Homo sapiens: one gene and its partners. The protein of the gene in region 3 interacts with the protein of the main gene of each other region in a pairwise test. Each region holds a gene or a part of one and is shown on either strand. Other genes may lie near its edges.

Region 1 (7,988 bases), on a different chromosome or scaffold from region 3:
GGCATCAGCCATTGCGCCCCACCGAGAATTATTTCATTTCTTCAGTTCTCTATGATTGTTTAGTAGGTGGTTGGGGAAATTTGTAGTGTAGCTACAATTTTGAGGAATTGACTTCAATATAAATATAATTCTTGTACAGTGTTTAGTAATGCTTCACAAATATTAAACATGACAGTATAAAAAATGTTCCATTATGTAAGTCCCTTTCCCCCGCCTGCTATTAGTACATATACCATATTTCTGCACTTTTATTATCTGAATTGGAAAGTATATAATTAAAAACAGTTACGAATTTAGTACTTGTCAATTTAGTAGTAGTAAATGGTTGATATATTTAGAGACATTATTCATTCTACAGGCAGAGCTTGATGCACAAATGGATTCCTGGTCTCCTTGGTCCACAGGATGGGAACTGTTGGTATTGCATTTGAACCAAGGAATATTTGTCTTAAGAGTAGCAGTTTTGTCCCGTTCTCCTTAAAGAAGGCCTAGATTATGTTGATTTTATTGTGGTTTTATTTTACCAATTAATTGAAGTTTGAGTCCTTGGATAGAATTTGCAAATCTGCTTTGCATGCAAAATTAAACTTGTAAACTAAATTTACTTGGGCGTATGAATATATTTAATACTTAAAGTGATATTTGGTAAGTTTTATTTCAAGGTAGAGTATTAACTTTTAGAGCTGGCTACTTTGGAAATAATTTTATGTACTTTTTGGAATGTTTTGACATCTGGAAAAAGTGTACTCTGTTAATTTCTTTGTAATACTGCAAAAAAACACATAGTTCAGTTGATGTTATCCTTACTGTTCAGTGCTGTTTACTAATTACCACAGGTAGAAATGGCTGTCTCAGATAATCTTCAATGAATTTTTTCTTTTCTTTTTTTTTTTTGAGACAAAGTCTCACTCTGAGTGCAATGGTGTGATCATGGCTCACTGCAGCCTCAAGTCCCCTGGGCTGAAGCGATCCTCCTGCCTCAGCCTCCTGAGTAGCTGGGACTACAGGCATGTGCCACCACCCTGGGCTAATTTTTGTATTTTTTGAAGAGATGTGGTTTTGCCATGTTGCCCAGGCTGGTCTCGAACTCTTGGATTCAAGCAATCCACCTACCTAGGCCTCCTGTGCTGGGATTACAGGCGTGAGCACCTAGCCACTCTTCAATGAATTTTACCTTGCAGTTACTAAACAACATTCCTGCAATGTTTCAAGTTCTCTCAGAGTGAACACTGTACATCATTACGTTTTTTTTTTTTTTTCCTTGAGACAGCCTTGCTCTGTCATCCCAGGCTGAAGCACAGTAGCACAATCATAACTCACTGTAGTCTTGAACTCCTGTACTCAAATGATACTCCTTCCTTGGCCTCCTGAGTAGCTGGGACTATAGGCACAGGCGACTGCACCTGGCTAATTAAAAAAAAGTTTTTTTTTTGGTCGGGCATAGTGGCTCGCGCCTGTAATGCCAGCTCTTTGGGACGCTGAGGCAGGTGGATCACTTGAGGCCAGGAGTTTGAGACCAGCCTGGCCAACACAGTGAAACTCCGTCTCTACTAAAAATAAAAAAATTGGCTGGGCATGGTGGGATGCGCCTGTGGTCCCAGCTACTCTGGAGGCTGAGGCAGGAGATTCACTTGAACCTGGGAGTGAAGGCTGCAGTGAGCCAAGATTGTGCCACTGCACTCCAGCTTGGGTGACAAAGTGAGACTGTCTCAACAACAACAAAAATCGTGTTTTTTTTTTTTTTTCCTTTTTTGTAGTGATGGAGTCTTGCTGTGTTGCCCAGGTTGGTCTTGAATCCTGGACTCAAGTGATCCTCCCACCTCATTCTCCCAAAGTGCTGGGATTAAAGACTTGAGCCACTGTGCTTATTATCTAATATAAGGCACATCTCAAAACTCTTGAGCTTGGTTTTGGTATTGCTTAGTTACCTGGATTTTCAGAGGTTGGTGGGCTAATTAGGCAGCTGTCTGTCCATTATTTTACCAGGCATTTATGACAGTGATTATTTTTTATGACAGTTTTTTGTTTGTTTTTTAAATCAGCCTGGACATTTAAATATATTGTGCCAGCATATTAGTTACATGAAGATTAGCTAAGATAACATAAGGTTACGGGCTGTTTAGTTGCACCTACAAACATAGTAAGACTTATCAAAACAAGTATGGATTTTGAATGTGAATATTTTAAAAGATATATTGAAATTACTTAGAGTAGCCCTGGATATATGTTCATTATGGCATTTATCTTGTTAATAAGTTTCTACATGCTCATTTTAATTTCCAGTAGCATGAGCAAGTAACTTATATTTCATTCCCGAGAAACTAAAAGAATCTGCCTAAAGAGTATGAAAATTGCCATTAAATCTGTATTGTCTACTTTCTGGATGGTTATATCATTATAGTTCTCTGCTCTTCCACACATTTTTGGGCTGCTATCAGTTTGTAAGTAATCATTATACAAACTAAATTTAAAAATTTAAACAAGATAATTTTATATTACTTGGATCAGGGAAAAAAATGCAGTTGCTGAAGGTGGTTTCATAGCTAAATATAAGCAATTATTTTGCTTTTTCTACTTTTTTGGATTTTATCATCTTTTCCCTTTTAGTAATAGAGTAATACAGGTAGGAATTAACTTAGCACTGCCAAATTAATAGTAATATTAGAACTGTGTACACAGCACAGGGTTAAGGTTATATAGAAAAATGTCTCATCCATGTTTAATTTGGCTGACCAGCCCAGTTGATTAGCCAATTTTATTGTTTTGTTAAATTAAAATTCTAAATATAGTTGTCCATTGTTAAAATAAGTGAGTAGGGTTAAAATAGAGAATTGATAAAAATAAAGCCTTAAAAATCTTTTAGCTAAAGTAGCAGGCTTCAAGTGAAATTCAGTTTTGGTCTCCTTTACAGGAATAGCTATTCAGTCAGACAGAACCACTTATCACGTTTTGCAGTATCTCCTGAGGAAGTCAGAATTCTGAGCCAGCATGAAGACGGAATCTTGTCTTTGATCTGATTTGCAAACCGTACTTTTATTCTAATCATGTGCAAGGTGGAGGTTATAGCGTGGGAACTAAAATCTTAGTAAGTGTGGTTTTTATTTTAGCTATTAAGTAGTATACTTTCTTATAGTGATTTTTTTTTCTTCTTAGCAGAGTTCACACTATAAATGGTGTATGGACTTGGCAGGCAGGAACATAATACAGTATACTTCAAAAGTGAAAGATTTAGGCCAGGCGTGGTGGTTCATGCCTGTAATCCTAGCACTTTGGGAGGTCGAGGTGGGTGGATCACGAGGTCAGGAGTTCATCAAGAGAAGCCCGGCCAAGATGCTGAAACCCTATCTCTACTAAAAATACAAAAATTAGCCGGGCATGGTGGCATGCACCTGTAATCTCGGCTACTTGGGAGGCTGAGGCAGGAGAATCGCTTGAACCTGGGAGGTGGAGGTTGCAGTGAGCTTAGATTGCACCACTCCACTGCATTCCAGCCTGGGCAAAACATAGCAAGACTCCATCTCAAAAAAACAAAAATGAAAACAACAACAACAAAAAAACAAACAAACAAAAGATTTAACCCTCTAGGTTCAGGAAAAATCCCTGAGAAAGAGAGAGCAAAGCTTCTATACTCTGCCTAGGATTTCTTTCTCTTTCCGGGTGAAAAATAGGTGTTGGGATGATACTGAGTTGATAAAAGTATTTAGGAAAAGTGGCCAGTGTCTAAATTCAAGCCATTAAAAAAAAAAAAATTAAATTTGTTATGTAAGTTGCTTCATTTATGAATTAGTTGCCATTAAATTATGAAGTCTTTCTTCATTATAGTGTAGTGTTAGCCCATTGTTGAATCCTAGAAATCTTTTAAGTAGTGTGAATATCTTTTAAATATGAATTGGATTTTTTGGGGGGCAGGGGATGGAGTCTCACTCTGTCACCCAGGCTAGAGTGCAGTGGTGCGATCTTAGCTCACTGCAACCTCTGCCTGCCGGGTTCAAGCAGTTCTCTGCCTCAGCCTCCTGAGTAGCTGGGATTACAGGCACCTACCACCATGCACGGCTAATTTTTGTATTTTTATAGAGACGGGGCTTTACCATCTTGGCCAGGCTGGTCTTGAACTCCTGACCTTGTGATCTACCCGCCTCAGCCTCCCAAAATGCTGGGATTATAGGCTTGAGCTACTGCCCCCGGCCATGAATTAGATTTTGAGTATATTTTAAATATTCAAAATTTAAAATATTTTAATTATGAACATTCACAATTATATTGGAATGATTATGCTACTGGTTATTTCAGTGACCTTCCACAGATTTAATTTTCCCCAGTACAGTCTTCTTTTTTTTACTCCAGATAGAACTAGATTTTGAGGCTACAGATTATCAAGGAACTACCTATTTCATAATGTTACTTTGTTAATTGTAGCCATTACTTCTCAACATGTTTCTTTACTACCTGTGCTAATTAAGAACAGTGGATAATTAGCATTTTAAGTTGCTTTTCTCCCTTAGCGAGAATGATAAAATAGACGTTGCTTGATCTTCTGAATTCATGAATCATAATCTGTGTTCATAATTTGAGAATGGTTATGTGTTTAAGCTATTTTTTAGTTTGTGTTGTTTCCTCTACCTTTGTCTCTTTAAACTATTGGTTACTTTTCTAAATTGATGTGATGGCCTCCCTGAAATTAAACATTTCTATTAGTGGCTTCCCGTTAATCTCATCCTTCTTAGATCAAACCTCGTTATATCTCCTGCCTATCTCTTTTGCATTCCAAAGTTCAGTTTTATTAAATCCCAGGGTCTAAGATTTTTTCTTTGAGAATTTATCTCCAGTGTTTCTATGGAAATTAAAAAAGAAAATTAGGATAATTCAATGTCGAAATGTTGCATGCATCTTTTGAGAAATTTATATTTTGTAGGTTGAAGGACTTGCTTTTTGGGCAGCGTATTTTTGGAGGTGGAATGTAGTTATTTTAATAACCATGTCCTAATTATTTATAGCTTCCTGCCTGACACAGCTCACTTCAAGAAGTGCACAATGTCAGAACGTGGAATTAAGTGGGCTTGTGAATATTGTACGTATGAAAACTGGCCATCTGCAATCAAGTGTACTATGTGTCGTGCCCAAAGACCTAGTGGAACAATTATTACAGAAGATCCATTTAAAAGTGGTTCAAGTGATGTTGGTAGAGATTGGGATCCTTCCAGCACCGAAGGAGGAAGTAGTCCTTTGATATGTCCAGACTCTAGTGCAAGACCAAGGGTGAAATCTTCGTATAGCATGGAAAATGCAAATAAGTGGTCATGCCACATGTGTACATATTTGAACTGGCCAAGAGCAATCAGATGTACCCAGTGCTTATCCCAACGTAGGACCAGGAGTCCTACAGAATCTCCTCAGTCCTCAGGATCTGGCTCAAGACCAGTTGCTTTTTCTGTTGATCCTTGTGAGGAATACAATGATAGAAATAAACTGAACACTAGGACACAGCACTGGACTTGCTCTGTTTGCACATATGAAAACTGGGCCAAGGCTAAAAGATGTGTTGTTTGTGATCATCCCAGACCTAATAACATTGAAGCAATAGAATTGGCAGAGACTGAAGAGGCTTCTTCAATAATAAATGAGCAAGACAGAGCTCGATGGAGGGGAAGTTGCAGTAGTGGTAATAGCCAAAGGAGATCACCTCCTGCTACGAAGCGGGACTCTGAAGTGAAAATGGATTTTCAGAGGATTGAATTGGCTGGTGCTGTGGGAAGCAAGGAGGAACTTGAAGTAGACTTTAAAAAACTAAAGCAAATTAAAAACAGGATGAAAAAGACTGATTGGCTCTTCCTCAATGCTTGTGTGGGTAAGTTTCTGTATTCTGCATTTTTTGCGTGGGATGGGAAAAGGTAGTAAAAATGATATGAAAAGAGCTGGGTGCGCTGACACACGTTTGTGGTCTTAGCCACTTGCTTGAAACCAGGAGTTTGAGGCTGTAGTATGCCATGATCGGTCTGTGAATAGCACTTGCACTCCAGCTTGGGTAACATAGTGAGACTGTGTCTCCACGCACATGCAAAAATGTGAGTGTGTGTGTGTGTGTGTATATATATATGCGCAAAGTCACTAGCATTTGATTCATTCAGCACGATAGCTGTACTTTCAAGTATGCATACATAAAAATTTGTGTATTTGTGATCTTGTCGTAACTTTGTACTAAATTGCCCACAATTAATTGTGTTCATGTCTCTCCATTACTGGGGGCAGTGGAAACGTTTAAGTTAAAGCAAAGTTTTTACACATCAGCAGTAAAATATATACCTGGACTTTAAAACTGCTACTCTGTTTATTGTAACAAGATGTAACTGAGGAACACCAGCTGCTGTTTCCAAGTATTTGTAAACAGTGTGAGCATCTTGTGATGATAGAAGCTTTAGTCAGATGTTAAAAATACCACAAAAATGTGTGACTCCAAGAAGTTGAACAAACATATTGACCTTGAAAATACTGGTGTTAATTTAACATGAATGTCATGTAGTAAATGTTTGCAAACTTTATGGAACTGATTACATGTAGCCAGCTGATTCCATACTTCAAGTTATGGTTCATATGTATTGTGACATTTTCCTCAGGAAATGCTGTTAAAGGACAGAGACATAGGAGAGCAGAGTTTTTCTTCAGTTCTTGACCTTGTGAGTTAATTGTGATGTAATTCACAAAAGCAGTGACTTGAGTCTTCAGTATTTTTTTTTTGAGTAGATTAGATGTTTGATTTTTATTAAATTATTTGGATGGGCTGCTTGCTTTGACATTTGGTCTTATGAGGGAAATTTTGAATGATTACTAAGTTTAAACTTTGTGTGGAACAATAGCTAAGCTTTAACTATACCTTAGCTGTATGTTTTCCCTCAGTACCAATTTCTTTTATTTATCCCTCTGGGTACAGCCCAAGAATATGGAAAGTTTAGGTGTATGAACCTGTGAGTCCTAGGAATTGATTTCCAAGAAATCGTGAGTTTTAAAATTAAATTATATATATCATTCCCCCCCCCCCCCCGCCCCAAGATGGGATCTCACTCTGTCACCCAGGCTAGAGGGCAGTGATGCAATCATGGCTCACTGCAGCCTCAACCTCCTGGGTTCAAGTGACCTGCCATCTCAGCCTCCCCAGTAGCTGGGACTCCCCATTAGCATGTACCACTATGCCCTGCTATTGTTTTAAATTATTATTTGTAAAGATGGGGGTCTACCTATGTTGCCCAGGATGGTCTTGAACTCCTGGGCTCAAGCGATTCTCCCACCTCAGCCTCCTAAAGTGTTGGGATTATAGGCATAATTTGCTGTGCCCAGCTGAAATCCTGAGTTTTCAATTTTAGCTTTGTTCTGGCAAAAAAGAATATCCCAGCAGATGAATCCTTCTGACCTCCAGACTTAGTAGGCACTTAGCAAGTCTTAGTTCTAGTTTCCTCCCATCCTGAGGATGAGGGGATGAAAACATACCGGGCTATCTTCTGTCTGTGTTGTCCCATTTTATTCCTCTGATTTTTCTGCTCCAAATTGAGGGGCAACATACAGTATGATTGTCAGTTAAAAAAATTTAAACAGGAGATACAAAAGGGTTTTGTTATTAGTTTCCTTAGAGATCAAATTGATTTAACATAAAAATTCACCGTTTTGCAAGTGAACAACTCATTTGGCATTTAGTGCATTCACATTGTGTAACCACTACCTCTGTGTTGTTCCAGAACATTTTCATCATCCCAAAAGGAAACTATGTACCCATTAAGCAGTTACTGCCCCCTACCCCTACCCGCTAACCCTTGATAACTGCCAGTCTGCTTTTGGTGTCTGTGGATTTACCTATTCTGGATATTCATATAAATGGAATCTTTACATATCTGTGAGCTTTTATGTTGGGTGTGATTGTCTTTTAATTGCTTGTATGCCTTTGGAACAGTCTTAAAATCATTTTTTTTTTTTTTTTTTTTTTTTTCAGGGAGTAGTGTACT
Region 2 (7,579 bases), on a different chromosome or scaffold from region 3:
AATCTGAAATCCAAAATGCTCCAGTGAGGGTTTGAGTGTCATATCAGCACTCAAAAAGTTTCCAATTTCAGAGTATTTCCAATTTCAGATTTTCAAATTAAGGATACGCAACCTATTGTATATCTCTAATTTGAAACTAGGGATAATTAGAACCTATCTAACTTTCTATTACATTAGAACATGAAAAGTATTGTTGGTCTTTGTTTGCTTGTAACTCCATAGAATTGTTTTGTTTTAGTCCCTTTCAATTTTGGACTCTCAGCTTTGATAGTTAACAGAAATGAAAGCCTTGCATTTGCTGTGACATTGACACTGATGAACTCCAATGTGATTCTTAAAACCCATTAAGACCCAGAGAAAAAAATTCCTTTAGAATACTTTGGTGTCCCGTTTTGAAAACCTGGCCATATATTTTATTAAAAGCTAAGGTCCCAATAATTCCATTTCCGAGAATGTAATCTAAGGAAGTAATCATATATATGGAAAAAACTATATGCACCATGATGCCTTCTAAATTATTTGTAATTGGAAAAAGCTGGAAGTAACGTAAGTGTCCAAGCGTAGAATGTCTGTGCAAAATGGCACACGATCCAGATGGATTGTTATACAATCATTAAATAGTATTGTTAATGCACTGTGGAATCTTTCTGTGACAAATGAAAGCACTGTGTGTGTGTATGTGTATGTGTGTGTGTGTGAGTGTGTGTGTGTGTGTTTGTGTGTTTATGGAGGTGATCCTGGATAGGTGATATGAAATTCTGACTTGTCCAGCTTCTCTTGATACTATTGGGAAGTTGGCAGACACACAGGCACTTACTAGCATAAGCTGACTTCCATAACTTTATTCTAATATTTTGTATTTTGGAATCAAAGGAGTCAGAAGATGCATGCATCAGTTTCTGGGTGTCCATTTGTGCTGCCAGAAGAAAATACCACAGTCTGGGTAACTTATAGACAATAGAAATTTATTTCTCACAGGTATGGAGGCTGGTAAGTCCAAGATCAAGGCACTGGCAGATTCCGTGTCTGGTGAGGACTGCTCTCTGCTTCCAAGATGGTGTGTTGTTGCTGAGTCCTCCAGAGGGAACGAAGACTGTGTCCTCATGTGGCGGAAGGGATGGAAGGAAACAAAACCACTCCCTCAAGCCCTTTTAGAAGGACCGTGACCCCATCTATAAGAGCTGTGCCCTCACGACTTAATCACATCCTAAAGTTCCCACCTCTTGTTAAGTTTCAACACATGAATTTTGGGGAAGACAGGGATAAGGAAAGAACATGGTGATTAATGCTGTCCCCCTGGACTGATTTTCAAGCTTTCTATGGCAAGAGTTTATAGGCAAAAACAAAATCCGTCCATTGCATGTTTGATAGTGCCATGAACCTCTCTTTTGTTGCACTCATCACAGTTGTACATTAATCTATATAATTACTTAATGCTCATCTTCCCTTCTGATCTACAAGCTCCATCAGGGCAGGAACTGTCTTTGTTTTGCACATTACTTGACATATAGTCCTAATAGTTGAAGGAAGGAAGGACAGGAAGAGTGGAAAGGAAAGAAAGGTAAGGGGAAAGAGAAAAAAAAGGGGGTGGGGAAGAGAAAAGAGAAAGAGTGAAAGGGGAAGAGAGAGGAAGCAAATTTTTGCACAGGACGCTGTGGTCCGGGTGATAGTACACTAGCAAACCAGGAAAGCACACTCCCATTTCCACTTGGAACACAGCAAGGCCAAGAGACTGAAATGGACAGGAAGGCAGGGCTGCCCTAGCACTTGGCAGGTTTGCATCTTGGGGCTATATCGGGGATGGCGTCCTAGGCAAGGTAGGACTTTCCAGCAGGGCCAGCCGCAGTGCACGTGACAGAGCAGCGGTGAGGAGGGCAGATGCTGGTAGAAGTCTGTCGGGGGGAGCAGCAACATATGCAAGCATGGACTTGTATCTGTATTCTGAATATCTGAACCTGGGGATACCCAGAAATACACAGAAGGAATGGAGAAATGCCCCCTTTAAGGTCTCAATGCAGGTAGGGAGTATAAAGTCAGTATCATGGGTGTTAATGTAAATACTTGTTTACAGCCTCAGATAGTTGTTCTTAAGGATGTCTAAAAACAGACTAAAAACCAAAAAAAAATTACTGAAATGGTAAAAAATGTAATGGTTGTGGTTTTCCCTCTTATGTTCATACTTTCATAATATGTACATAACAGACAGAAGTGTTTCTCATTTGAATAATTGCTACTTTCTTTTATCGGATGCTAAGAAGTTTGAAATCCATTGTTTTTGGGTTTTTTTCCAGAAACAGTTCTAGCCTTCTCTATGTTGTCTATCCCTGTTGACACATCAGTCTTTACCATGTAATTTTGTTTTTAAAGGCATACCTCCCTCTATTATATACATGGTCTTATGTGTATGAATTCTTTTTTCAACTAGACCAGTAATCCTCAACATGAGGTCGAAAAAGAAAGACGAGAGTAGAGGATGAAAGGACGGCCTGGCATACTAGGCCATCTAAAGTGCATCCAGCAGCTCACCTGCACCCCCACAAACCATAAGCATCACTGCCATTCTGAGCTGATGTTGATGGGAGATGTTATAACTTTGAGGGGAGTGAGGAGGTAGAAAGAGTTAATAACTCTGAATTACTGTAAGTTTGGTGAGAAACTGTATTTTCACTAAAAGGTGAATTTTAGAACCAGAAGTTTATCAGTTTCAATTTTGGATCTATTACTTACTCTAAGTTCCTTAATCTTTGTCAGATGGATATGAACATACATTTCTTTCAATGTATGAATATTAAACATATGCTAAGTGCTAACAGATAGTGCTCAATAAATGCTCTTTAGACCTTACTTTTCAGGTAGACTTGGGAGTTCCTTTACATTACAGGTTTCTCAGTCTTGGCACAACTGACATGTTAGACTGGATAATTCTTTACTGTGGAGTGTTGTAGTCTAAAGCGTGCCCCTTAACCCCTACCACTAAATATGTTGGAAGTCTTAACTGCCGGTATCTCAGAATGTGACAGTATTTAGAGATAGGGCCCTCTATCTAAAAAAGAGGTAACTGAAGTAAAATGAGGCCATACGCATGGGCCCTGATCCAATGACTGCTGTCCCTACAAGAAATCGGGACACCAGTCCTGCACAGTCATGTGCACACAGAGAAAAGACCATGCAAGGACACCATGAGTGGAAGCCAAGGAGAGAGGCCGAAGAAGAAACCCTACTGATCTTGGACTTCCAGCCTCCAGAATTCTGAGAATACACATTTCTGTTGTGTAAGCTTCCCCGTCTGCAGTATCTTGTGACGGCAGCCCTGGCAAACTAATCCATGAGGGTTGGGTGTTTAGCCTCATCCCTGGCCTCCACCCATTGATACTGGTAGTACCCCTCACCACCCTCCACCTCCAAAAGTGTCTCCACACATTGCCAGCTGTCTCCTGGGGGGCAAAATCTTTCTGCCCACCCCACTGGGAACCATTGTTCTAGATGATCTTTGGCCACCTTTGTATTCCCAGTGTCAGCACAGTGACAGACATAGATAACCAAATATTTGCTGAATGAACTCATGTGCCTACTTTCCCAATCTTGGGTCTCACCGCTCCCTCACAAACTCCTTTTGCTGCAATTAAAGTAATAATTACTTCCAGTTTAATTTATAGACTATATAATTTGTCATGAAACAAACAGTTTTCATTTTGACATAATTTCTGACAACTCAGTGACATAAATATATCCATGTGAGCTCCTATTTTGTTTGACATGCTCACTTACCTCACATCAGTTCTGCCGATAGATTTGGTAAGTGGTGCTTTTAGTTTCCTTAATGCACCCCTCAGGATTTCATGCAAATGAAATTATTATGACAAATTTTTCTATAGCCATTTCTAACACAGGGAACTCATAAAGAAATCAAATGTCTGCACTTCACTGTGAAAACACTAAACTCTCAGCCATAATGAGACTCCACACATTATCAGAAACCCCAAGGCATACCAAAAAGACAAGGTCAACGGAGACAGTCTTTGGAAGGGGAGGTCATAAATGTTGAATCTGGCAAATCATAAATTTCTTGTCTTAACATTGCCGCATTTACTATCATCTCATTTGAAAGCTGATGTGTTTGGGTTGGGTGATGGCAGAGGGGTGGGAGTTGGGGGATGCTGGCTCTGAAATGCCAGAGAGGCATTAAGAACTCTGGAAGCATCTGGCTACTGGTAGACATTTTACACAGATAGCAATTTCTGACCAATCCATTTCAATGATTTCTAACCCATACTCAACTATCCAGAGGATACTGTTTTAAGAACATTATTGTAAACTGATACTCTCTATTCATTTACAAAATTCATTCATTGCATACTTTTTGTTTAATAGCTTGGATTCAGTGTTACAGATTTGATTGACCCAAGTGAAAAAATACTGACACTAATCATTTTTAAGTGCTATTTCAGAAGAATATGCGCAATGTTTCTAAGTTATTGTGACTTTGTGACTGTCGTAGCTTTAAATTATAATACTAATATCCTACTCTGAGAAATGTGTAAGACACAGGTCTAACAAACAACTACATTAACCTCGGGCAACAACCATCATGGAGCTGCTGTAACACAGGCATGGTGGTGGCGTGCATCGGTACTTACACACACCAAGGATGTGAACTGACATCCCGCCTTTCCAAAAACAAACATTTAACTCAACTGTTTCTTGCAATAAAGAAGTTGAAAGAATCCTTTTGTGAGGCTGGATTCTCCATGGAAGAGAAGGAGAATGGCCTAAGGACATTCTGAAATTTAATTATCAAACCAAACCAAACCAAACCAAATCCCTGTGCCAAAGTGCCAAAGAGTCTACCTCCTCTGCAAAGCTGGTACCTGTGTGAAATGTCAGTATTTTTAGAGAGAGATGTTTTAGAGGCAGGAGGCAACTGACCAAGTAAGGATATTTTGTAACATTTTTCCCCTCTGGAAAAGCAGAAAAGAATGAATATCAGCTAACCGTAATATTTAGAATTTAGCATCTTTCCTTGGGCATTTATAAATAGAAAATCTATCTGTGGCAACCAAAAGTACGGTATTCTAATCAATGCATTTGAAAAGTCAGCAAAAGCCCACATTAATTCCTATTACGCTTGTTTCTTGGTTCAATCTCAGCACTTTCAGCGGCTCTTGTGCGGCGATTCTGTCTTGGACTTATTTCTGTGTCTTGAAGATCGTTTCTGAAGACAGAAAAAGGAAATGACATCTTGGAAAGTAATGATTATTGTACAGCAGTTTCTAGTTTACAAGTGTTTTCACACATATTATTTCATTAAAACCTCGAAATAATCCTCTATTCTGTTGATGAATTCATAATTGTTATTATTAGTATTTCCACTTTATGAATTAGTGAGTTAGCAAAGATCACAGATAGTAAATGAGCTCTGAACCCCTTTTTCTGAATTAAAATTTAGGAGTTTTATGCTTCTGTTTAGCATGTAGAGGGCTGGGAAAAAACGGCAAACAAAAAGCTGCTCCCATCCTAACAAGAAAAAGCCAGACAGTCTAACAAAATCTTAACTCTGTTTGATCCTTCAGAGACCTGAGGTTTTAAAGGAACTAAGAAAGTAAAATTCCAAAGAAAAATATGCCCCTCCAAAGATGGGCCACACTTCTCTCACTTTTGGCAGAGTGTTGGAGAACGAGGTGGCTGCCATACAAACAGGTAAGAAGAATCAGCTAAGATTTTCCTAATTTCTTAAATACAGGCTAGTATTGCAGGCCCCTGACACAAGGAGAGTCTGCACACACTTGCCAGCTCTTTTCCACGAGCCTCCGTCAGGTGCTCACAAGAAAGACTGGGAGCAGGACAGGTGAATGGAGAGGGGCCACTTCAGTGGCTACGGGGGACAGGAAGAAGTCAAGTCCTGCCTGCTCTCCTGAATGCTTCTCTCCCATGAAGCATAAGCTTTTCAGTTGCTGAGGGAAACACAGGAAACTCCCCCTGGGGCTCTAGCAAAGACCTATGGCCTCTGGGGAAGGAACAGAGGTGAAATCAGTCTGCCTCAAGGGGAGGCATATGACCTCATTTGCAGGAACGCAGGCAAAGATTCACTGCTGCAGGGGGAATGGTAGAAACTAAAACCTCTACCTTACAGGAGGGGCAGTAAATCATCTCCAGCTGATGACCTTACACTGACACCACGCAGAGGTTTGGTCAAGTAGCCAGATACCATGGGAGGAGGTGGAAGTGCTGAGAAAGGCCCACCCCTGAGACTCAGGCACACAGGGCCTACCTAAGACTCAGGCTAGACTGAGATAACAGTGAACCCCGGCTGTTTCCCACCATCAGCCTAGCAACAAGCAATAAGCAGGAGCAGGAAATGGCTGAGGGAGAGACACAGACATGGTGAAGATATGCCCCTATTTGGTGCAGGAAAGCAAGCATGGCTGAAAGGAAAATGGGAGCAAAATCAATGAGAAAAACCCTCTGGCAATCCAGCCCCAACACTAAGCAGAAGTCAAAGCAGCCACCTGCTAGAGTAACTTGAAGTGGATGCACTGAAGGTCACATTAGTCACTAGGAAACTCCAATCCAGGTCAACTCTGAATTACCCAGCTCAACTCCCCACACTAATGACCCAGTAGAAGGATGTGCATTTCTAGGCACAAACACTATCGACCTCAGTCCCTATGGTCCTTCACTGCATGGCCCGCATTCAAAAAGTATGATACACAATGAAGCAAGGGAAAAACCCATTTCGAGATGGAAATTCCTTCAATAGGCTTTAAGTGCAATACACAAAGTTGATAAAAAGACTTAGTGAACTTGAAGGTATGTCAATAAAAACCAGATTAAGATACAAAGAGAAAAAGGAGTATGTGAGGGGGTGCACATAGAATAGAGCAGCCAAGAGCTGTGGGACAATAAAAATGGCATAACATGTGTATAACTGTAATACCTGGAAGAAAGGAGAGAAAGAACTATGGATAATAAATATGTAAATATATATGGCTGTGGATTTTCTAAAAACGTTGAAACACTTCAAATCAAGATCAAAGTTGGTCAAAGAACCCCAGTCATGAGAAATACCAAAAATAAACAACCAACAAACAAGATCTCTCCAGGATTTGTTGTTGTTGCTGTTTGCTATTATTGTTTAGTGACTTTTCTAAACCAATCCTATAAATATGTATTCTTTGTTGTATATGGCAACTAAAAGTGTCTGCTTGATTAGCTTTGTAGTCCACTAATGATTGAACAGTTCCTTAGACATCTGGAACCAATATCATACAGAAACTCAGCAAAACCAGTCTTTGCTGGTGGGTTCTGTGTCTGTGCTGGGGCATGCAATCAACATTCACTCAACACTCAGTGGACAACTCTGCCTTAGCCTTTACTTCCTGCTTGCACACAGCCTCATGGTTAACCAGAGGTGAAAGTTTAGCGCTTCCTTAGGTCTTTCCTAAGCATGCACGGAAGCTCTATGAATGAGAGTGACCCTCTAGATTCCCAGGAATATTTTATAGCTGTTCAAAACCCCCATGGAAATCTTATTCTTCAGCTTTTACCATTAGGCTTTTTGGTTAGCATATCATTTACCCCA
Region 3 (7,699 bases):
GCAAATTCCCCTGAACGGATTTCAGAACCAAAAACTAGCTGATGAGCTGGGGGCCATTTAAATTCGCTCCCCTCGAAGGCGCCCGAAGTTCGCCTTCCTTTCCCTTTCTTCCCTCTTCGCTCCCTTTTTGTGCCAGCTCAGCAGTCTCATTGAAGCGAGCGGCGGCGGCCGCGCCGTGGTAAACAAGTGCCGGGCTGTCAATCAAGAACTAGACCGGAGCAGGAGAGGACCGGCCTAAACCGGCGCGAGCAGATCCCAGCCGGCCTGCCCGCGCGCCGCCGCCGCCGCCGCTGCCGCCCGCGCGCCCCGCTATACATACGGCATACGTCGCGCGGCGCTCGCGCCCGTGCCCGCGCAACCTAGCCTGCTGGCCGGGGGGCGGGGCGAGCGAGCCGCGGCGCTTCCGCTTTACACGCCCCAGCCGGCGACCGGTTCCATCTGGCTCGGGCCACTCTGACACCTTTAGTTTCGGCAAGGGATATTGGGGTGGCGAAGGGGAGGCGGGGGCCCGAAGGCTTCGGAAAACGATGGGGGAGGGGGCAGAGGATACCCGTCGAAGCCCCCCCCTCCCCCAACATTTCGATATTGGAATCACTTTCCTTCTTCCTCGGGCCAGCCTTTGCTCTGTCCCCTCAGGTCAACTCAAGGTAGACAGTGTGGCGACTGGAGAGGTCGGGGAACAAGCTTTGTTTCAGCTAAGGGGAAAACAAGCGTTCACAGGAGTCCCCTGACACCTCCCACTCGGAAGATAGCTAACGGGGGTCCTGCCAACCCTTCCCATCCAACTTCCATCTGAAAAGGATTTTCTGCTAAAGTTGGGTCCATGGCCATCCAGCACCTGTAAGGCCGGCAGGAGCGTCTGCCCTCTACTCAGTTAAAGCCTGAAGTCGTTTCCTTTCGATGGCCCTTAGGAGGCCCAAAAGAGGGGCGACAGAACATGATGTTGACACGGGCTGGGCGCCCCCAGAAGCCCGGGAACAAACGTGAGTACGGGCTGGGTGGGGGTCGCTCTGGAGGAACCTTTACCGGCGCACGCCGGTTTCCTAGCCTCGCCCCAGCCGCGGCGCGAGCTCACTCTCCCCACCCGCCCGCGCCCAATCCAATCAGCGCCTGCCATCGCCTTAGCAACAGGCTAACAAACCTGGCTCCGCCTATCCCGGGCGCCCGGGGCGGGGTCTCAGTTACCAGGCTAGTTTGAGAGCTCCCAGTTTCAAGTCATTGAAACTATTCCAGACTGAGCTCGTCTACGCGTTGCAGGGTTTGGGGGGCATTTTGTTGGGGGTGCAGGGCATTTAGTTTTCTTTACCACGAAATCATGGTGCAACTAATGAAATTATATTTGTCCTCACATCTCGTTGTTCTACTTTTCCCCACTGCAAGTCTTAACCCCTTGAGGAAAAATCTGTTTTCTTTCATCCGTTTCATAAAAGGCTGCAATATTCAGAAAGGTACAAACACAAAGTCATCTATCTGCTTTTCAACAAATACCAAGGCTGTCATTAGGCATTTGCATCTCCTATCAGTGTTAACACTTGGAGAGATTAATTAGTTATTTCAGGATGCAAAGTACCTGTATCTAACTACGAAAATCCTGCTAAAGAACTGAGTTCACCTTAATAGTTTCAAAAATAATGCATTAATACTGTCCCTCAAAGCATCCTTCATTTCTCACTTGCCTTAGTCATCAGCACTTCTCCAGGATGTACGTTTTTAATATAAAAAATAAGGTAAAATATGTCTCTAATTTTTTTTCTGAAAAATCGCCAACATCTGAACTAAATACTGCATTAAAAAGGAGAGGCACAAAAATTACATAACCAGTTTTAACATTATATTCTTCTTGGGCTAGGAATTAAGTCATCGCCACCACCTGACGCGTGTAACCAATCTGCTGAGAGCAGAACAAGCGCCCCTCCTCACCACCCCCCAGAACTGGTCCGAAACAGGATTGAACCGCTTCTAACAAAGGGTGGAAACTTAGAAAAACAAGCCTAGAGTCTCCTATATTTCCACAATGTAACCATTTAAACAATAGATTGGAAATCTCAGGACTCCTTCTCCTTTTGACAACCCTTTATCTCTCTCTTCTAACCAAAAATCAAATCCAGTGTGCCCTATACTTTTCAATTCCATTTGACTGGCATGGGTTTCATTGAATGCACGTTCCAAAGTTAGACATGATGCTCGGAAAAGAAAATTACTGATCCTAAATGGCTTCTAAACCTGACTCGATACCTATCATAATGACAGATAGTCATTCCTTTAAAATAAGGAATGCTGGGTGTAAATTTTTAAAGGAATGGTAAAGAATAGAGAAAAAACACGTGGGGTGTTGATACCATATGTCAAAATAAGCCACAGAAATCTTTTATGAAAGAACAGTCATCAATTATTTAAAGTCTTTTGCATTCCAATATTAAAAATGAAACACACCCATTAAGTCTCTTAAAAATGTTATTACATTTCTTGATCGAAGTTCAGTTTTTACATCTTAGGTTGCAAGTAAAAGGGCAAAAATCTAAGACTGCAGCTTTTACCAATTCATTTGAAAATATATTAGTAAAACGACTGAATTGGATTCAAACAGAATTTATAAGTAAGGTGCAAATGGACTACAAGTGCGTGTGGCACAGACCGAGCCGGGTACAGAGGTAGCTGAATAAGTGTAGTTTGCAGTCACTTTGCAGATGCCTGCATGCATTACGGCTTAACACACGATGAACGTCAAGGAGAATCCAAACCTTCCAACTTTGCTAACCTTTCTCAAACTGCTTAGTTATGCTAGGAGTAGAATCACGTTAATTCAGAAAACTGAAAAGGTACGTTTCCAAAGAAAATGAGTCCAATGACTTATGAATAACAAAAACTTACCTCTTTCGTGCCCAATTAAGATGTCTTTATGGTTGAAATACTCTACTTCTTCAGTGTAATTCTGTGTATAGGCAGTATTGGAGCCGGCGTTTCTAGATTCAGTCCAGCGTACTTTCGCATGTCCTCTTGCATGAATTTTAAGAGATTTTACTCTGATTTCCCCAGTAACTTCTAAATTTACCCTTCCTGAGACGGTATCCCCACTAGAATACACAGGGACATTGCTGTCATTAAGACAGTCAAAGCTTATTGTCAAACTCTTCACCTTTCCCAGCACCATGTTTATAACAAAATCTATAAAAATATAATGTAAGACAAAAAAGTCAAGATCGCATATAAAATGTGATCTTCACTTAACACTGATCGATATTTTTGCCGTGCAAAATGCTTGCAGGCCGGATCAGTGATTCTCTACAAATAGTTCATTGAGATTTCTTAAAAAGTCAGGGCAGCAGAGGCTGCTGCTCCGCGCTCCCGCTCGTCTCAGTGGTCTCCTTACAAAGACGGGCGGCTAAAAGCTGCCAGCTCACTTTAAGAGCAGCTTTGTGAAAAACAACCCCAGTGCGCAGGCGCAGGCCGCGGCTGCTGTCCGCCCTCCCTGCGCGCCCCCTCCCGCGCCGCGCCGCGCCGCGCTCGCTCCCTTGCCCGCTCGCTCCCGGGTACAGTAGGTGTAGAGCTAGGGGAAGGAGATACTGGAGCTGCTGGCCGGCTGAACCTGACTTCTCTTCATTGTGGGCTCCTATTGGTAGGCAGGCTACCGTATACCCTCGACGTGCTATCTGGAGCCCGTTACCGAGCGCACTCTACTAGAAAGATAATGGCAGAGTGGGGTGCGAGGGTACAAGGGCTGGGTGGGGAGTTTGCAAAGCCAAGTTAGGATAAACTGCAGCGACCAGCCCGAAGCGTGCGTTACCGGCACTGCAGCGTTTTACCAACTGCCTGGATGGGAGGAGGAAAAAGTGATGTGTGAAGAGAGATGGGGGAAGGGAGAAACCGGTTGGGCAAGCGGCCGATTGTTGAGCATAATCTAACGAATTTCCAAAGAAAACGTAATAAAACCGGACAAGAAATATTGTTCATAGACAAGAGCATACTTTGCTTGGATTTTTTTTTTTTAAACCAGTACTTTGTAGGCAGGTTGGAAATGAACTCAGTCGAGGTCAAAGGAACCTTAATCCTTTGAAGAGCGAGGTAGAGAAGCAAGTACAATGTAATCAATAGGCTTTGCTGTCTCCTCAACTTCTTTCTCCTACATTGCTTAATTAGCACCGAAAAACAACCAAGTTGTTTCCAGGATGACACGGGTGGGGGCTGGGGGAAGCTTGATCACTTCCTCGAAGGAAGAAAAAGTCCTTTTAAGACACCACCTACGGCTAGATTTGCAGAGTAAGACATGATTACAACTCCTGTGTCCAGAGGAATAAGAATAGAGTTCGGCCTAAAAAAGTACTACCTTATAAAAGGCATATGACATAGTGGTTTAGCTGACATATTGTTTGCAACAGAATCGGAAAATCTTTGTTAGAAATTAGTGAAGCGCATAAAATTGTTTTTAAAAAGCATGATTTGGTATATAAATAGGGATTTAACTGTGTGAAGCTTTAATTTTCGGCCGAGAGCCTTGGACCATTTAACGTAGTAATTCTCATGATACATCTTAAATATAGGTACATTTCTCTTTTTATTGTGAATGTTTGGTAAAAAATAGCAGTGCTTTCGTCACATCACACTGGGATTCAGAGCATAACAGCATAAACTCATCTAGATTACTGGCAATCAACAGAACTGCCTTACAAGAGAAATGTAGAAAGAAAAAATATGAATCTGGTGCTCTCTCTATATATATATGTATGACCAAAAATACCTTGGAAGATTTTTGGCTGTCCGTGTCTAAACGTTTTAGATTCTTTTGCGTAGTGTATATGGATAGGTTGAGCCTATGAGTCACAATAAACTAAACTTATTGGTCTTGCTGTTTTATTTCAAAAGAAACTAAGCTTTTGGGGGTTGGATTTTAGTTGACAAGGCAATATCTTGGACTCAACAGCAATATATAAAGAGTATAAATATGCAAACTAGACAATTAATGAGCAGGCCATTTATTTCAGAGTTTAGATCGCTATGCATAAAATTATAAATTTGCATATTTAAGTGGGAAAAACAGTCTTATCTTTTCCCTACCTCTTGGTTGACACCTGGTGGAAATTCTAGGTAAAGTACCTGGGGCCTTGTACTAGCTTTGATTACAGATACTACTTGTGTTTTTTCTCCACCTAGTGGTAGAAGTGGTGAATTTCCTAGAATGACAGCTTTTCCTCAGCATAAGGTCAATGATATTTAATAAGCATTCGAAAACCACTGAGCAAGGAATGGATTTAAAAGTGTAGTCCATAATGAATACATAAATTCATTGCACATTTGTGTCTACATTTATGTTAAAAATTATTAAGGGTTAGTGAACAGCTGAATTCGGATTTTTTTAGTAAAATTTATTTAATTAGAATATAACTCATTTCAGAAAAAATAAGAATTAGCTATATAAATACACCAGAATTGCATTTAATAAAAAAGAAGTCTAAGAAATTTATTTGTAGTTTGGAAAATTGTTTTAAAATATTAAATGTTTCATTCCTGTCACTGTGTAGTACATTATTCTTTGTGTTTGAAGCTTTCAGGATCTTTTGAATAGTTGTCTTTATTATTTATTTTGCTATTTTTAAAATTTTCTTTTTACTGTGTCTTCTTAAATACTTAGGTAACTGGCAAATTTCCAAGAAATTCTTACCAGCTGCCATTTTCATTATATTTTTATTTTTTGAGATGGAGTCTCACTCTGTTGCCCAGGCTGGAGTGCAGTGGCACAATCTAGGCTCTCTGCGGCCTCTGCCTCCCGGGTTCAGGCGATTCTCCTGCCTTAGCCTCCGGAGCAGCTGGGATTACAGGCACGCACCACCACCTCTGGCTACTTTTTGTATTTTTAGTAGAGACAGGGTTTCACCATGTTGGCCAGGCTGGTCTTGAACTCCTAGCCTCAAGAGATCCACCCGCCTTGGCCTCCCAAAGTGCTGGGACTATAGACATGAGCCGCTTGCGCCTGGTCTCGCTTTATCTTTTCAATTCTTAAAAACAAAAACAAAAACAAAAACGCTTGGACCAAATTTTGAATGTTTTCTCTTGTCGCTTTCATAACTTCCCCCTTTCAGATTTTTTGTCTAAATAGCTACTCCTTAGACAGCTTGAAATGCTGTACTGTAGACATTATCTTGGGCTTCTCAGCTTGCTTCACTGGGCCATTATTGTATTTTGTATTATATTTAAACTATTCGTCTTTACCATCAAGGCTCTTTCCTACTTCTCCCCAGCCTACGTCTCATATGCCATCTCCTCCTACTCATCTGCTAACTCTCTATAATCCTGTCAAGTACATCTTCTGTCCCCTTTGTTAGCTTGTCTCACTGTTGCCAGTATGCAGTTACATGTGCTTTTGGTGCCCAGAATAACATCCCACTACTATGTTATCTCCTTTGCTTTTTTCTAATCCCTCCACTAGATGCAGTTGGCACTACTGAGTAAAATTCCAACTAGACTGAATAACTAGCTTCCCTTCCCCTTTCATTGCTTCTTCAGAGCTTAAGTAGGAATCTCTTTTTATATTAGCTTTTGAGTCAAATGGCTCTTTCACCTTAATATATTAAAGTTTGAACTCAATCTCAAGAACTCTATCAAAGACTGATAAATGATCATTGCTGTCAAGTTGTATGATATTGAGGAGATATGTTAAGATTACTGCCAAGTTTGGAGTTTTTTGCATATTATATCAACATGCTCAATATTTTTATTTTTAAAAAAAAAGGAAGCCATCTCAACTGGAAGTTTTGGTGTTTGGTTGAAAAAAAAAAAAACCTACCAGTAGTCAGAATCTGTTTCATAAAGAAAAATATGAAATCTATGCTTAATCTATTTTAACTAGCAGCTGATAGGCTCGAGTGCTATGGGACTAAGGGGGATTTTTTTCCTTTGGTCTTAATTCTGTATTTCAAGATTTTGTAACTCTGACTTAACTCTTTAATATCGTCACAGTGCAGCAAATTTGGCATGCAGACTGGACAGAAGACTTGCTGTATTATTAGCAAAATGAGTAGTATTTGTTTTTTAGCTTTGAGAGCTATTACAAACATAACGCATATTATGTTTGTTATGTTCTTCATACTTAATAGACTTTTAAATATGTTATGGATTTTGTGATGAAACTCACTATCAAATTTGGATTCTGATATCCTTCATTAATAAATAGTATAATTTGTGTTATGTGAACACCATTTAATCTGTTATATTTTATTTCTTGATTAAAAGAAAATCACCCATAATTCTACTGTCCGTCCATTCAGAGACACCACTGTTAACATTTTGGTGTATTTCCATCCAGATGTACAACTAAAGAAGAGCATTGCCAGTGAAGCTATGGCAGTGCATATTATCATGTAGAAGATGAGTTGGTAAAGTTTATTCATCTAAGCTCAAATGGCATCTGGTCTACAGAAAGAATTAGGAATGCTAAATTTCTTTTCTGAACTACTTTATAAATTTTGACTTTTGACTATGCACAACTTTATATAATGAGGGTAAAATTTTATTTGCTGTAATAAAATATTTTCTGGCTGAGTGTGGTAGCTCATGCCTGTAATCCCAGAACTTGAGAGGCTAAGGTGGGAGGATTGCTTGAGTCCAGTGGTTTGAGACCAGTCTGGGCAACATAGCAAGACCCTGTCTCTACAAAAAATACAAAAATTAGCCAGGTGTGGTGGCATGTGCCTCTAGTCCCAGCTAT
Region 4 (7,681 bases), on a different chromosome or scaffold from region 3:
TTGAGATGTCTACAGGAAATGTTACTTTACATTGTCATTGTCTTTTTCACTTGTTCTCTTTGATTCAGTCAGATTTTTGTTACCCTTTTTTTTTTTTGGTCATTCCTTTGTTCACTCTTCATTCAGCAGGCATACATTGAATAATTACTGTGTGTCAAGCATTGTGTTAATCTATGGACACAAAATGAGTAAATAGACTGTGAGTTCCTGCCTTCAAGGAACTCTCAATCTAATGGAGGAAACAGAGAGACATAAGACCTGTAATTTAGTACGATAAGTATAGTGCTACAAATATACAAGAAGCTTTAATCCTCTTTTATTTAAAATAGTCATAGTCCCTGAAGAAAAGACAAGGACCTTCAGATAGGAGCTTTCTCTGTAAAGGTGTTGACACTATCCTCTCCTTCCCACCTTTTCTTTTTTCTTTTTCTTTTTTTTTTTTTTTGAGACGAATCTGTCTCTCAGGCTGGAATGAAGTGGCCTGATCTTGGCTTACTGCAACCCCGCCTCCCGGGTTCAAGTGATTTTCCTGCCTCAGCCTCCCGAGTAGCTAGGACTACAGGTGCGCACCACCACACCTGGCTAATTTTTTGTATTTTTAATAGAGATGGAGGTTTCACCATGTTGGCCAGGCTGGTCTTGAACTCCTGCCCTCAAGTGATCTGCCCGCCTCGGCCTCCCAAAGTGTTGAGATTACAGGCGTGAGCCACTGTGCCCAGCCTCCTCCCCCCCTTCTCTGATAGCACTTTCCCAACAGGAAGTAACCACCTTTTGCTAATGTATGATATGGTCATTTTATGATTAAAGGCCTTTAAAGATTAATCTCTTTTGGTAGGTGAAGAGTCTTGCAGGAGGGTGAGCAGTCTTTCTGACAGTCATATGAGGAAGGAATCCTTTTCTCAGGGGCTGAGAAAAGGATGGGTCAAGATGTCTTAGGAAGGCACTCATGAATTGATGATGATATGTGACTTGTCAAATGGAAGCAGGCCAAAGGCTAGGAAGTAGGGAACTCTGGCAAATTCCTGTCTTTTCTTGGCATCAGAACCTACAAGCCCTGAAGGATATACTAGATTTGGTAGTGTTAGAACTCTTTAAACATTTTATCTAGATTCATTTTTTTGTTTTGTTTAATAAGATTTCTTTGATGTGTTCTGAGGGGAAAAAAGAAAATATCCTTAGGTCCCACCTCTTCTCCCCAGCTGGGCCTCAAGTGTTAGAGGGGTACAGGGATCTTGAGGTAGAGCCTGGTTGGAGTAGCCATTCTTGTAGAATTCCAAGGGGAAAGTGAAACATGGGGGACGGGGCCACAGTGGTTAGTGTTAACAGAGAAGATGTCATTTCCTTATTCATTGATTTCCAAGTCATGACTTGTCTGTTCTAAGCCTTAACTCCGGTTCTTGTTTGCATATCTTTTTTCCCTTTACTCAAGCCAGGCAATCTTTCTTGCCAGTTTTCTGCCTCTGTGCTATTTACCATTCATTGCTAAATGTTTGCTCTTTTCAACCTTGGTATTTCCTTTAAAGATACGCTTGTGTCCCACAAAGCTGAGCTCAAATTCTACCTCTACAAAACTCTGTGGACGCAGTGGTTTGAATTGTTAGCTTTTAAGAGAATACATTTCCAAGTGACATTTTAATGTGTGTATTGCTGTGTTTCTGACTTTTGCTGTGTTAGAAGAAGTTGACCAGGAAGTAGCTTGGGACTTTCTCCAGTGAAATGCAGTCATGCAGTCCTTTTCTCCAGTGAAATTTTATAAGAAATCCCAATATAAAAATAGATATTGATAGCATAAGAATAATATAAATTCATAACATACACACAAATTTATAACATTTACTTAACTAGGCCACTCTTTGTACAATAAGTTAAAATCTTTGTAAAAGTAAAAATTTTTTTAAAAAGTTTTTTGGTTTTGAATAAGAATAGTAGACTTAACAGCCAGTTTTTTTTCTAATATATTTTGTAGCTTTTTAAACTATGAAATATTTTCAGCATAAAATAGAAAATATGAACTCCCATTCCTGCCAGGCAATTATGTCAAGTGCTAATATTTTGATATACTTGATTCTTTTTTTTTAAGAAAGGAACATTCAAGATGCAGTGAAATACTTTAGTATTTTTAGCAGCTACCTGATCCCATTCTTCCTCCTTTCTCCGAGTTAAACACTCTATAAATAGATAGAAATTCTCTTTAATAGTATAATACTACACTTACAAATATACTATATATTGTTTGGATGTTTTTAAACTTCTTAAAAATGGTGTCTTTTTGTCATTCTGCAACTTTTGTCATCCAGCATTTCTTCTTTTTTGAGACGGAGTCTTGCTCTGTCGCCCAGGCTGGAGTGCAGTGGTGTAATCTCAGCTCACTGCAACCTCTGCTTCCCAGGTTCAAGCAATTCTTGTGCCTCAGCCTCCCGAGTAGCTGGGGTTACAGGTGCGCACCACCATGCTCGGCTAATTTTGCATTTTTTAGCAGAGATGGGATTTCGCCATGTTGGCCATGCCAGTTTCGAACTCCTGACCTTAGGTGATCTGCCTGCCTTGGCCTCCCAAAGTGCTGGGATTACAGGCGTGAGCCACCGTGCCTGGCCCATTCAGCATTTCTTCGTGAGAGTTATTCATGTTGATGTTTGTAGCTCTAGGTTATAAATTTTAATGGCTGCGTGATACTATACTACTATATGAATATGCATTATCTGTTGTCCTATTGACGAACATGACTTTGTTTTCAATTTCTTGCACCTACAGACAGCTCTGTATTGAAAGTTTTTATCTATGTTTTCTTGTGTTTATGGGTGCAAGATTCTTTTTTTTTTTTTTTTGAGACGGAGTCTTGCCCTGTCACCCAGGCTGGAGTGCAGTGGCGCGATCTCAGCTCGCTGCAACCTCCATCTCCCAGGTTCAAATGATTTTCCTGCCTCAGCCTCCCAAGTAGCTGGGATTACAGACGCCTGCTACCATGCCCAGGTAATTTTTTTTTGTATTTTTAGTAGAGACGGGGTTTCACATGTTGGCCAGGCTGGTCTCGAACTCCTGACCTCGTGATCCGCCCGTCTTGGCCTCCCAAAGTGCTGGGATTACAGATATGAGCCACTGTGCCCAGTGGAGTGCAAAATTCTTAAAGGTTGTCGTCTTGAAGGGGAATTCTTCAGTAGAAGTGTAGCTCTTGGCCTGGTGTGGTGGCTCATGCCTGTAATCCCAGCACTTTGGGAGGCTGAGGTGGACAAATCTTCTGAGGTCAGGAGTTTGAGACCAGCCTGGCCAACATGATGAAACGTGTCTCTACTGAAAATACAAAACTTAGCTGAGTGTGGTGGTGAATGCCTGTCATCTCAGCTACTCGGGAGGCTGAGGTAGAAGAATCACTTGAACCTGGGAGGCGGAGATTGTGCCACTGCACTCCAGCTGGGGCAACAGAGTGAGACTCCATCTCAAAAAAAAAAAAAAAGTGTAGCTCTTGCAAAGTTGCCCTTCCAAGTGTTTGTTGATTTCCCTCCTGTCAGCAGTGAAATTCCTGTTGTTCCACATCCTCACTAATGCTGAGCATTGTCAGATTTTCTAATTTATGCCTATCTGATGAATATGAAGTAAGACATTGTTTTCATTTCATTTTCTATTTCTACTTCATTGCCAGTGAAGATGAGCATTTTTTCATATGTTTCTTCATCATTCTGTTTTCTTTTTCTATAAATTGCCTGCTCATTACTTTTATTATTCTGTTGGGTTACTTTTTAAAAATTGATGGCAGGGTGCAGTGACTCACACCTGCAATCCAAACACTTGGTGGATTGCTTGATCTCAGGAGTTCGAGATCAGTCAGGGCAACATGATGAAACCCCATCTCTACAAAAAATACAAAAATTAGCTGAGCATGGTGGCGCGCACCTGTAGTCCGAGCTACTCGGGAGATGGAGGTGGGAGGATGGCTTGAGCTAGGGAGGTTGAGGCTGCAGTGAGCCATGATTGCATCACTGCACTCCAGCCTGGGTGACAGAGCCAGATCCTGTCTCCCGAACAAAACAAAAAAACGAAACCAAAAACCAACACCAAAAAATAAAACAAAATTGATTTTTAGAGTTCCAGATACATTTCTTACTAATCTTTAGTTGGGTATGTATGTTACAAATCTGTATTCTAGTTCTGTTTGTTTCTGCTGTCTTTTATTGTAAAGAAAATGTGGGTTTTCACTTAGTGATATTTGTCATTCTCCCTTAATTTTATTTTTCTTAAGAAAGGCTTCAGGGCTGAGTGTGGTGGCTCACACCTGTAGTAAAGAAAAGAAACCCTTCTCCACCCTGAGGTTATACAGATATTTTCATATTTTCTTCTGCAAGTTTTACTAAACTTTTGATTTTCACATTTAGGTCTTTGATCCACCAGGAATTAATTTTTGTATAAGGTCTGCGGAGGAATTGAATTGGATAACCAGTTGACAATAGACAATAATCAATTGTCTAATCACTGTGGATTGAATTGTCTGTTTTTTCCCCACTGTTTTATAATTGTCTTAGCTATTTTGGGCATTTCAAATGGATTATATGACAGATTGGTTAAAATCATTATACAAGGGAATTTCTTGTAGGTTTTTAGGATGTAAGAGAAAAGACATTATAATTTTATTTTTGTTTCACATCAGCTGATATTGATGGTTTAAAATATATTTTTATTCCTTAATAACATTTAATGATAAGCTTATGTATAATTTGTAAGTAAGTCAAGAAGAGAATGATTTTCTGCCAGTGAATATACAACATAATACTATAGCAGTGTAGTTAGGTGGATGTGTCTCTAGCATGGCTTTTGTTTAAATAAAGGACCTCAGAGGTGTTGCGTGTAATAGGCCTTGTGGCTGGGCGCGGTGGCTCATGCCTATAATCCCAGCACTTTGGGAGGTCGAGGTGGGCGGATTACAAGGTCAGGAGTTCGAGACCAGCCTGACCAACATGGTGACACCCCATCTTTACTAAAAATACAAAAATTAGCCGGACATGTGGTGCATGCCTGTAGTCCCAGCTACTCGGGAGGCTGAGGCAGGAGAATCACTTGAACCCGGGAGGCAGAGGTTGCAGTGAGCCAAGATCGCGCCACTGCACTCCAGCCCGGACGACAGAGCGAGACTCCATCTCAAAAGAAAAAAAAAATAGGCCTTGTATATAAGTATGTAGGGTAGGATATCAAACTCTGGTTACTTGACAAGTGATGGTTCTAACCACCTATTACCCAGGTATCAAAATGAAACTTAAGGATATATCATTTCTTTATCTCTTGTTATTTTTTTCCTCCTTGGTTGTCTATTGTCCTTTAATCTGACCACTTTTCTTCTCCCCCTTCCTTGATTTTTCATTTTGTCTTAAGTTAAAAAGCTTTTATTTTATTTTATTTTTTCTTCTTTTTTGAGACACAGCCTCACTCAGTCGCCCAGGCTGAAGTGCAGTGGTACAATCTCAGCTCACTGCAGCCTCTGTCTCCTGGGTTCAAGCAATTCTCCTACCTCAGCCTCCTGAGTAGCTGGGATTACAGGCACCCACCACCATGCCTGGCTAATTTTTAATTATTTATTTATTTATTTTTTTCTAGAAATGAGGTTTCACCATGTTGTCCAGGCTGGTCTTGGACTCCTGACCTCAAGTGATTCACCTGCCTCGGCCTCCCAAAGTGCTGGGATTATAGGAGTGAGCCACCATGCCTGGCCTAAGTTACAAAGTCTTTAAAAGTGTTTTTGCTTACAGTCTTTTTCCTGTTATAAAAATATCAGCTAATTGGCAATATTTGTCCAACACCATGGGTGAGAAGGATATTAGTTCCTGAGGCATTTTGGTATTGTTGAAACATTCTTTTCCCTCATCCTTTGTTTTTTAGGATTAAGTTTCACATTGACTTATTGGCATCTGCTATCTTTTTTGGTGTAGTAAGTGTTGCTCCCAGCTTTTAGACTTCCTTTAGCGTTATTTTCTTAATGGGTCTGTGGCTGCTATGCTTAAAGGACAAGCACCTCTCTGTCCCTATAGCACCTTGTGGAACATTTACAGTTCTTCACCATGGAGACCTGTTATGGCGATCTCTGTTGCATTCAGGGAGGCCTTTCTTTAGTTTCCTCCAGTTAAGAAATGTTGAAAATGAAGTGTCTTGTGAAGTAGTTCCAGTTCTTACTGACTTTTAATGCAAGCTCAGAACTGTGTTTAATCTCATATTTAAAAAAAGCATGAAGGGAAATGATGAAGGATTTAAAAAATTTTATTATGTACAGTCTCCCTCATATTTAGTGTAATTTTTAAATGATAGCAGTTGGATGAAAAATCTGTTATTCAGTGAAATTGTTATTGTATCTGAAAACTCGCAAACTATTTTCTTGGTCGGTAAACGTACCCTTAGTAAGCACTTGCTTATTTTCATTTGCAATATGAGAATTGTAGTGACTCAGAATTTTACTTCTCATTTGTACTAAAAGTTTTTTTTATTCTTATCTGGAGCAGCAGCTTTTACTTTCATTTGTCATGGGATGAATTATCTTAACCTTCTCTTCTAAAAAAAGATCTGCTTAAAGAAATCTAGCATGTGCAGTGTTTTGGTTTGTCCCCAGCAGTACTAAGTCCTTGAGGTGGAGGGTTGAAGGGGAAGAACTTTTTTTTTTTCAAACATTAATACCTTATTAGGTTCTCTTAAGTTACCTGATAATGAATAAACCTTTATATTTAATGGAGAGATTGAACCTAAGAAGGTCATTGTGGCAGATATCTGGGAATGGCCATTGTCCCCTGAAAATTATTGACATTCTGAAGTGGCCACCTGCTTATAGGTGTTAAGAATAGGCTGTGTATATATGTATGTAGGGTAGGATATCAAACTCTGGTTACTTGACAACTATCAGTTCTAACCATCTATCACCCAGATATCAAAATAAAACTTAAGGATATATCATTTCTTTATCTCTTGTTATTTTTTTCCTCCTTGGTTGTTTTTTGTCTCTGAATCTGACCACTCCTCTTCTTCCCCTGCCTTGATTTTTCATTTTGTCATATTACTCCAGTTTTATGTCAGAAATTTGTCACTACATGATGATGTAGTCTTAAAATTTTTAGCTATTCTAGTGGGTATGTCATTGTGGGCTTTGTCGTTGTTGTTGTTGTTTTTGAGACAGAGCCTTGCTCTGCCCCCCAGCCTGGAATGCAGTGGCGTGATCTGGGCTCACTGCACCCTCCACCTCCCAGGTTCAATCTGGGACTACAGATGTGCACCACCATGCCTGGCTAGTTTTTGTATTTTCAGTAGAGACAGAGTTTCGCTGTGTTGGCCAGGCTGGTCTGCAACTCCTGGCCTTATGTAATCCGCCCGCCTTGACCTCCCGCAGTGCTGGAGTTACAGGCATAAGCCACTGTGCCCGGCCTTCATTGTAGTTTTAATGTGCATTTACTTGATAACTCTTGATTTTGGGCACGTTTAAATATATTTATTTGCTAAATGAATGTTCTCTTTTTCAAAGTACTACTTGTTTAAATATTTTGTCCATTTTTCTTTTCACTTAATTTTCACAACTCTTTTAAGCACGGCAGCTATTTTAATCTCCATTTGACAAATGAGAACATGGATTTGGGTTTGAGTCAGAATGGAGGTGAACTACTCCAAAGCTTATAAGCTAGTAAGAAAGCTTCAGAGATGGATGTAGGCAAGGCAGGTCCTC

What was found.
Region 1: the proteins of ARRDC3 (region 3) and ZRANB1 interact in binary tests that used the Homo sapiens proteins (3 or more experiments, as listed by UniProt).
Region 2: the proteins of ARRDC3 (region 3) and RAD18 interact in binary tests that used the Homo sapiens proteins (3 or more experiments, as listed by UniProt).
Region 4: the proteins of ARRDC3 (region 3) and STAM2 interact in binary tests that used the Homo sapiens proteins (3 or more experiments, as listed by UniProt).

The regions. Positions count from the first base shown.
Region 1 is NC_000010.11:124,937,463-124,945,450, forward strand, and holds the start of ZRANB1 (ubiquitin thioesterase ZRANB1), read left to right. Parts: upstream 1-4,660; 5' UTR 4,661-4,994; coding exon of another isoform or gene 4,995-5,031; coding exon 5,032-5,845; intron 5,846-7,988. UniProt on the Homo sapiens protein: Ubiquitin thioesterase, which specifically hydrolyzes 'Lys-29'-linked and 'Lys-33'-linked diubiquitin. Also cleaves 'Lys-63'-linked chains, but with 40-fold less efficiency compared to 'Lys-29'-linked ones.
Region 2 is NC_000003.12:8,876,248-8,883,826, forward strand, and holds the end of RAD18 (E3 ubiquitin-protein ligase RAD18), read right to left. Parts: intron 5,213-7,579; coding exon 5,110-5,212; 3' UTR 828-5,109; downstream 1-827. UniProt on the Homo sapiens protein: E3 ubiquitin-protein ligase involved in postreplication repair of UV-damaged DNA. Postreplication repair functions in gap-filling of a daughter strand on replication of damaged DNA.
Region 3 is NC_000005.10:91,379,942-91,387,640, forward strand, and holds the start of ARRDC3 (arrestin domain-containing protein 3), read right to left. Parts: upstream 3,377-7,699; 5' UTR 3,152-3,376; coding exon 2,872-3,151; intron 984-2,871; exon of another isoform or gene 406-983; intron 157-405; exon of another isoform or gene 1-156. UniProt on the Homo sapiens protein: Adapter protein that plays a role in regulating cell-surface expression of adrenergic receptors and probably also other G protein-coupled receptors.
Region 4 is NC_000002.12:152,165,627-152,173,307, reverse strand, and holds part of STAM2 (signal transducing adapter molecule 2), read left to right. Parts: intron 1-7,681.